2 separate regions of the Homo sapiens genome follow, and region 2 is linked to region 1. The links come from fine-mapping of genetic effects on gene expression. A gene starts in region 1. The other region holds a variant in brackets. All regions are shown on one strand. Distances are from middle to middle.

What was found. PIP is the estimated chance that this variant, and not a neighbour inherited with it, causes the effect. A credible set is the group of variants that fine-mapping cannot tell apart.
Region 2: its variant is the best candidate, but not a certain one, in a credible set for the expression of BICRA in whole blood (INTERVAL, PIP 0.68).

Annotation. Positions count from the first base shown.
Region 1 is chr19:47,606,831-47,611,206 of GRCh38, forward strand. BICRA (BRD4 interacting chromatin remodeling complex associated protein) reads left to right here and starts at 2,304. Exons shown (of 15, transcript NM_001394372.1): 1 at 2,304-2,338. BICRA-AS2 (BICRA antisense RNA 2) reads right to left here and starts at 1,799. Exons shown (of 1, transcript NR_186352.1): 1 at 1,043-1,799. RefSeq lists silencers at 1,309-1,388, 1,459-1,508, 1,559-1,638, 1,699-2,078, 2,189-2,238 and 4 more.
Region 2 is chr19:47,377,935-47,382,310 of GRCh38, forward strand. It overlaps DHX34 (DExH-box helicase 34), which reads left to right. Exons shown (of 17, transcript NM_014681.6): 14 at 1,776-2,051; 15 at 2,882-3,058; 16 at 3,252-3,390; 17 at 4,046-4,376. The coding sequence ends at 4,179. Among named protein-coding and RNA genes, the nearest start is that of DHX34, 31 kb to the left of the region's middle. The variant C/T (reference allele first, on the strand shown) is at 1,905.

The DNA of each region.
Region 1 (4,376 bases):
TATTCACTTGTGGAACTGATAACTTCCTGTTTACTTACTAATGATAACGGCCAGCATTTATATGGCACTTCCTCTCAGGTGCAGCTCTCCCTAGCTCATTCTTCCTCATGACCCTATGAAATGAGGCCTATTATTATCAGCATGTTAAAGATGAGGACACACAGAGGTGAGGTAATTTGTCCACTGTCACACAGCAAGAAAGTGGCAAAGGCAGGATATGAACCAGGGGCTGACTGGTTTCAGTCAGGGCCCTTACCCTCTGTGGTCTCTCAAAATTAATTTCTTCTTCTTCTTTTTTTTTTTGAGACAGGGTCTTGCTGTCTCCCAGACTGGAGTGCAGTGGCATGACTATGGGGAACTACAACCTCGACTTCCTGGACTCAAGCGATCCTCCTGCCTCAGCCTCCCAAGTAGCTGGGAGTACAAGCACACACCACCATGCTGGGCTAATTTTTGTTTGGACAGGGTCTCGCTATGTTGCCCAGGCTGGATAAATTATTATTATTATTACTATTTTTGAGACAGAGTTTCCCTCTTGTCGCCCAGGCTGGAGTGCAATGGTGTGATCTCGGCTCACTGCAACCTCTGCCTTCCGGATTCAAGCGATTCTCCTGCCTCAGCCTCCCAAGCAGCTGGGATTACAGGCGTGCACCACCACACCCAGCTAAGTTTTGTATTATTAGTAGAGAAGGGGTTTCACCATGTTGGCCAGGCTGGTCTCGAACTCCTGACCTCAGGTGATCTACCCTCCTCGGCCTCCCAAAGTGTTGGGATTACAGGTGTGAGCCACTGCGCCTGGCCGATAAATTATAAAAAAAAAAAATACGTTGAAGTAAATATTATGGGTAGTACCGCCAAGATACTAGAACACATGTTAAGGCTTAAAAAAACAGAGGCCGGGCACTTTGGGAGGCCGAGAATAGCTTGAACCCAGGGGACGGAGGTTGCGGTGAGCCTAGATCGTGCCACTGCACTCCAGCCTGGGCGAAAGAGCGAAACTCCGTCTCAAAACAAAACAAAATATAACACAACAACAACAAAATCACAATCTGTCTCGATTACTCATTTATTCAACCCGCATTCACCTACTGTGTGCACGAGCTTTTCTAGGGCACTGGGGAGGCAGAAGGGACTAAAACAAAGTATAAATCTCCCTGGGCTGCAAGCATCGGGAGGGCAGGTCCGGGGGCTCTGTGTCCCCACTGGGCCCCCAGCACTGCGCAGCGCACACAGTGGGCGCTCACCAAGCGCTCGCTAAGGGCAACGCGTGAATCCGTGTCCCGCCAGCAGGGCGTTTACGGCCTGGTGGGGCGGAAACGGACCCGACACCACCGCGGCGTCCTGGGGCTTCTGGGAATCCCATCAGCGCGGCCAGAGCGGCCGGGGACAGGCTCCGAGGCAGGCCCGACCCGCCTCCCCGGCGCCGCCGTGGCTCGACGGAGACCAGCTAGGGTGAGTGATCGAGCCACGCCTGGGGTCCCGGCCTGTCACCCCGAAGTCCCCGCCGCCTTCCACCCTGTCAGGCTCCAACTCTGGGCTCCGGCGCGGTCCCACCTCCGGGGGGAACTCCCCTCCATCCCCTCCATTTCCTTCATCCTCGACTCCCGCTATCTTTTCGGACCTGCGGCGCTCCCCCTGGACGCGTCCTCCCGCCGGACGACCGTCCTCCGCCTCAGGGGACGCGCCCAGGACGCACGGCGCCCCCTCCCCAGCCGGACCGGCGGTCTGGGAGCGCGGATCCCTTCAGCTCCCCCGCGCCCCAGCATCCGGATCAGGGCTCGAGGCAGTCGACAAACTACACCCGAGCTCGAGCAGGCGCGCCCCTGAACCCCCGGGACTGGGGCTGGGGGCGGGGGCGGCGCCGGCGCGGAGGGCCCAGTCCCCGGACGTCCGCAGCCTCCCATTGGCTCCGGGTCCCGCCGCTCGGCCTGGCGGGGCCGGGGCTGGTCCGCCCGGACGCGGGGCGGGGATTCCTGAAGCCCCTCCTCCGGCGAGGGCGGAGGGAAGAGGAGGAGGAGGAGGAGGAGGAAGGGGGTGGGGGGCGGAACACAAAACCTGAGAGGTTTTTTTTTTTTTTTTTCCGTTTGCATTTAATTAAAAAAAATTTTTTTTTTTTTTGCATACCCGAGGGGCGCTCCCCGGAACGGGCGCGGGCCCGGGGCGCGCGGGCCTGGGCGCGGGGCGGCGGCGGGGGCCCGGCAGCGGCTGCCGAGCGGCCGCCATGCGATCAGGCAGTGCGCTGACCGGCCCGGCCGGCCGGCCCCTTCTGGGTCCTCCCTTTGCAGCCCGTGCGGGGCCGTCTCGGAGACCCCGCGCCGACGGCTGCTCAAACATCAGGGTGAGTTTCTCACAATGTAGCAATTTCTCTTTAAATCTCTTAACTCTCTCTACCTGCGAGTCGGGGCTGTGACAGGGCGCAAAAGCGAGGGGGGAGTGGGGGTTGGCGGCGAGGGTGTGTGTGGGGGGAGCCGGAGCCGGGGCCGAACCCACCCCCGCGACACTCTCACACTCAGCCCCCCAGCCGGGGCGCAGCGCCCGCTGCCTCCTTTTTTTTTTTTTTTTTTTTTTCCTGCTCGGCGCCCACCGCCACCGGCACCCCCAGCCCCGCGTCTCTTCCACCACCGCCGCCGCCCCGATCCTATGGGGACCCCCCCCCAACCGGCTTCCCTGCCCAGACCCGGCGCCCAGTGCCTCCCCGGCCCTCCCGCCGGCTGCCGGGGATACAATGGAGCGGCGGAGAGAGGAGACCTAACGTTCCACGGGGGGAGGGGCGCGGAGACCCCCTCCCCGTCCCGGCCCCCTCCCCTCGCCCCGCTCCCCGCCTTTCGGGGAAGGCGAAGGCCACCGGGCAGCGGGCGGTGATCTCCCGGCCGGAGGCGGAGAGCCTGCATCTCCCCGCCTCGCTCGGCCCCTGCGCCCCCTCCCCAAATCCCTCCCGTGGGTGTCGCGGACAGTGGGGGGCCCTGGAAAGCTGGGGAGGGATGGATGGGGAAGGAGGCCACCGGGGCTCCCCCCTTCGCACCGCCCCTAAACAATGAAAGGAGTTGACTTGACCCCCAGCCCCCGGCAATAGAGGGAGGTGACCCCCTCCCCCACCCCCAGCTGAGGCTCATCCCGGAGGGGGCCGTTACGGGGGTGGGGGGGGTGAGCGCCTCCTGTCACTTCCCGAGGTTCGGGGCGGCCCCCCATCTCCTACCCCTCGGCCTGGGAACGGGAGGCACCAGGCCCGGCCGGGGCACCGCGCTCGGGTGGTGACCTTTAGACAAAGGCAGCCCTTTCCCCGGGGTGAGCCCGGACGAGCTGGGCCTGCGGCCTCCCCGGGCCCCTGCGGAGGGCAGCCAGGCCGCGGGCACCCGGAGGGAGGGATGGAGGAGGAGGGAGGAGGGATGGAGCCATCTGGTTTTCCCATCCCTGGCTGCCCCTCGTCTGCTTCCCCGACTCCTGTCACGGGCGGCCGCGGGGAGACGAGGGACCAGGGGCTGCTTGGGCCTTGGTGCGCGGCCAGCCGGGAGGACCGGGCAAGGAGCCGCGGGAGAGCTAGGCTCGGGCTCGGGCGCCGGCGGTGATTGGGAGGCACTGCGGCTTCTTCCTCTCCGCGCCCCTTTGTTTTGCTTTGTGGTTCTGAGCAGCTGAACTTCCCGGGAGGTGGGGTCAGAGGCCGCGGTGTCAGCTCTCCCGGGGAGGCCCAGGTGACAGGTCCTAGCTCTCTGGTGTCCCCATCCTGGTGGGCTGCAGTCTGTGCCCAGGCCCATGTCCTGACCATCGTCCCCTTTTGTCACCCCCCCCCCACACACACACCTACCTACCCACCCCATAGTATAATACAGATCTAGGGGTGCCTTTCTCTTACACCTCTTTACGGAGGGCACTTGAAAGGGAAACTAGAAACATCCAAGGCATCAAGGCCTGAGATTCATGATAAGCTCTCTGTGCTTTTAACCTCTCCCAGCACCTGGGGTGGGTGTGGGGGGTATTGTCAACTCTGACCTGCCCTGGGTCATGAGAAAATGGGAAGACAACTCAGGAAGCACCCCCTTCCCATGCACTGGTAGGACTTTTGGGACATGTTGACCTCCCTTGCCTTCCCTCATAGCTCCCCGCTCAAGATGGAAATATTAATAACAATATCAAACTAGGGAGCTTTATTCCGCTGCTGCTAAGTACATTACACGCTGGCCACAGTCCAAGGAGGAAATAGAGACGGGACAGACATTCCCGTTTTCCAGACAGGTTCATGGAGGCTCAGAGAGGTTAAGAAGCTTGCCCAGGGTCACACAGCCCTGGGTCACACAGAGCCCCAATTTGTAACCTCCTGGAGTTTTTCCAGCTTGGCTCAAAACTGTTAAGCCCTTCTTCTGTCCCACCCTTTGGCATTT
Region 2 (4,376 bases), 230 kb before region 1:
GCGTCTTTGTGATCCTAGGCCTGGCCTCGGAGTCCTCACGCAGCCCTGTGGGTCTCCCTTTATAGAGGGGACTGAAGCTCAGGCAGGGGCGGGGATACGTCACCTAAGTCACACACCGAGCAGGTGGCCAAGCCAGAGCTCCTGGGTCACACTGCCCCCTCCTGCCTCCTGGCTCACTACCAGCACTCCCCGGCTTGGGTCCCAGGGAACGTGGAGGGGAGAGAGGAACCTGCAGGCTCCTAGAGCCTCAGGGTTTTGTTGACACTGCGATTGCCACCAACACCACAAAAGCCAGCTCAGCTCAGTCACTTCTGTGTGTGTCCACACCTCCCTCGAGCCCGTCTGGTGGGCCAGGCACTGTTAGTGTTCAGTGTTCTGGGGCCGGGGGTGCAGCTGTGGTCAATGTCAACCAAACTCCCCACCCTCATGGGGCTCAGATAGGATGGTAGAGGCAGACGGCAAACCAAAAGGGTGATGCCAGGTGCTCATGTGAGCATGGGAAAGCAGGCAGCACGCAGGCCGAGGGACAGAGGATTGGCGACCAGCCGGGCCGCAGGAAGCGGAACAGACCTGCTACCTGAGGCGCTCTCTCCCTGCACTGGACTGCTTGTTGAGAGAATCTGGCCAGCTCACACCTGGAATCCCAGCACCTTGGGAGGCTGAGGTGGGAGGATTGTTTGAGCCCAGGAGTTCAAAGGCAGCCTGGGCAACATAGGGAGACTCTATCTATCTCTACAAAAAATTTTAAAAAGTTAGCTGGGCGTGGTGTTGTGTGCCTGTAATCCCAGCTACTCGGGAGGCTGAGGCAGGAGGATTGCTTGAGCCTGGGAGATTGAGGCTGCAGTGAGCTGTGATTGTTGACACTGCACTCCAGCCTGGGTGACAGAGTGAGACACTGTCTCAAAAAATAATAAGCCGGGCATGGTGGCTCACGCCTATAATCCCGGCACTTTGGGAGGCCGAGGTGTGTGGATCAGTTGAGGCCAGGAGTTTGGGACCAGCCTAGCCAATGTGGTGAAACCCCATCTCTACTAAAAATACAAAAATTAGCCGGGTGGGTGGCGCGTGCCTGTAATCCCAGCTACTAGGGAGGCTGAGGCAGGAAAATCGCTTGAACCTGGGAGGTGGAGGTTGCAGTGAGCCAAGATTGCGCCATTGCATTCCAGCCTGGGCAACAGAGTGAGACTCATCTCAAATAAATAAATAAATTAATAATAATAATAATAAGAAGAAGAAGATGGAGAAACTTCACATTCACATAAGCAGGCAGAACAGTATATGGAGCCCTCCTGTACCATCCCCGGTCCCCAAACCATCCACGCATGGCCAGTCCTGCCCTTTCCTCTGCCCTGGCCCCAGCCCTGAGGATTTTCCCCAACATCTTATGAGCCACAGCACTGGTAATTACAGCGCTGACTTCCGTCCTCACAGAGGAGCGTGTGCTCAGGGTCTGGGCTCTCCCTGCACGTCGTGTGTGTCTGAGTGCCTGCTGTCCCTCTGCCACCCTGCCTGAGAATGCAGCTGTCTCTCTCCCAGCACGCTCCCATCTGCCGCCCCGCCACCCCAGCCCCCTTCCCTGACTCAGCGGCTGCCTTGTTCATGCCGTATCCCCAGCACCCGAAGGGGTGCCTGGTACAGCGGGTAGATGGCGGGTAGGTGGATGCCTCACATAGACAGGGCTGGTGGGTGGGCAGGAGCCCAGCCGGGCAGGGCCTGTCTCCAATAGCGCCCTGCCCCTCCCACCTACTCCCTGTCTTCTGCCCCCTCTCTTTCAGTCCCTCCTGCTTTTTAGCCGGTCTTTGGACACCAATGGTGACTGCTCCCGCCTGGTGGCCGATGGCTGGCTGGAGCTGCAGCTAGCAGACAGTGAAAGTGCCATCCGACTCCTGGCGGCTTCCCTGCGG[C/T]TCCGTGCCCGCTGGGAAAGTGCCCTGGACCGGCAGCTGGCGCACCAGGCCCAGCAGCAGCTGGAGGAGGAGGAGGAGGATACGCCAGTCAGCCCCAAGGAGGTGGCCACCCTGAGCAAGGAACTCCTGCAATTCACGGCATCCAAGGTACCCTCCACCAGGGTGCCCGTGCCTCCCTATGGCCAGAAGGGGCATCCGTCACTGGGCTTGAGCCTCGGGAAGGCCTGGCTTCCCATTCACTCCACATGGGCACATTTGGGGGTTTTCAGGCCACAGAGGTTCAGTCACTTACACAAGGTCACTCCACTGGTCTGGGTGGAGCTAGGATTTGATCCCAGGAGCCTGGTTCCAGAGGCCACACTACCCACTGCTGCCTTGTTTACTAAGCACCTTCTGCAAGCGTGGCTGATCCCCTCTTGCTAACAGTAAAGGACAGGCAGGGTGTGAGAGGGAAGCCGTAGACGTCTGCTTGTGGATGGGAAGAACTGAACTGAGCAGACTTGAAACCAGCCCCTGACTCTTAGGTGGGGAGTGGAAATTGCTCGTGGTTCTACTTCATGTGGGTGGGGTGGGGAGAAGGGTACAATCCAGGCTGACTTCCTGGAGTAGAAGGGCTTGAGGACAAAGGAGCAGGAACCCAGTGAGCCATGGAGAGGGGACCAAGGCTGACATGCTAGGAGGAGGAGGGGGGAGGTGGCCAGACTTGAAGGTTAGACTCAAGGTCTGAATGGGGTCCCACCAGTGACAGGGGCAGAAGAGGGGCCTGGGGAGGGCAATTTAGATGGGGGTGGGTTATCAGGTATATTCTAGACAGACCCCTGGTCATGTGTGTCTGCAGCCAAATTGTGATTGGTGTAAGCACTTGGCTCCCGTAACTGCAAAGCCCGAGGGAGGGCTTCAGGCACAGCTGGATCCAGGTGCTTTGGCGGCATCTCCCTGAGTCTGTCTCTCTCCATTTCCTGTCTCTCCTTCCTTAGATTCCTTACAGCCTCCGGCGGCTCACAGGGCTAGAAGTCCAGAACATGTATGTGGGACCCCAGACCATCCCAGCCACCCCCCATCTTCCTGGCCTCTTTGGCAGCTCCACCCTGTCCCCCCACCCCACAAAGGGGGGCTACGCAGTCACTGACTTCCTCACCTACAACTGCCTCACGGTAAGCATGAACCCTCCTTCCCTGAAGGTGGGATTTCAGGAAGACCCCACCACCCCGTTTCACCTTAGTCCAGGGACATAGTTCCCAAGTGGGGCCCGTGGCCCTGAGGGCTTCTGGGAAGGGTCCCGGGGGGGCACTTGGGTGGTGGGTGGCACTTGGCGGGGGCCCAGCCCTGACAGCTGGCCTGCCACAGAATGACACAGACCTGTACAGCGACTGTCTCCGAACCTTCTGGACCTGCCCCCACTGTGGCCTGCATGCGCCCCTCACGCCCCTGGAGCGCATCGCCCATGAGAACACCTGCCCCCAGGCCCCACAGGATGGGCCCCCAGGTAAGCACAGGACTGTGGGGACCCGGCCACCTCTGCCCAGCCGTCTGCCCATCCCATGATGGTCTCCTGTGCGTGTGAGCACTTGCTAGAGCTTCGAGGACTGACGACCTCCACCCGCTGGCCCTGGCTGGTGCCACACACAGGCCTTGTCCTGAAGATCAGGAGCCCAAGGCAGGGAGAGCCTGGAGCGCCACCTCTTTCTGTCTGCCTGTCCCCTGTGGTGTCTCTGTGTTGCTGTCTTTGTCTCTGTTTCTGTCTCTCTGTGGCTATGTCTCTTGTTATTTTTCTCTGTCCTGCAGCTATCTCTGCCTTGGTCACCTCCACCCTGTTGTCACCCAGGGATGCCACACACTGGGGTTCAGTGGGGGAGATAGCACTGGGGCCACATGCCTCCATCCCCGGCTGGCTGTGTCTGCCTCTCAGTCTCCATGTCTCTCCTTGTGTCTTTCTCTCTGTCTCTCTCACTGGCAGGGATGCGGAGTAAAGACAGACCTGTGTATTTTTATTAATCTGGGAGGGCTTCCTGGAGGAGGCAAAACTGGGTTCTCCAAAGGCCAGGAGAGAACCTGAGCCCCACAGGTGCCTGGCATTTGGGTGCAGGTAGACCTGTGCACTGGAACACGCCCCTCACAGCCTCCTCCTTTTCCTCCCTTAGGGGCTGAGGAAGCTGCCCTCGAAACCCTCCAGAAGACATCTGTCCTGCAGAGGCCCTACCACTGCGAGGCCTGCGGGAAGGACTTCCTCTTTACACCCACAGAGGTGCTGCGCCACCGGAAGCAGCACGTGTGAGCTGGGCCAGGAGCCCTGCCCACCTCCGTGCAGCTGACCTGCCCTCCAGCCCAGGACTAGGGGCAGGACTCTTGCCTGAACCCCCAGCCTGGGCTTAGCCCTGTGGTCCTGTCCCAGTGCAGAGGGCCTGGAGCACGGATTGTGAATAAAGCCTCACATGCTGATACACACTGTTAGGCCTGCACCTGCCCATCCAG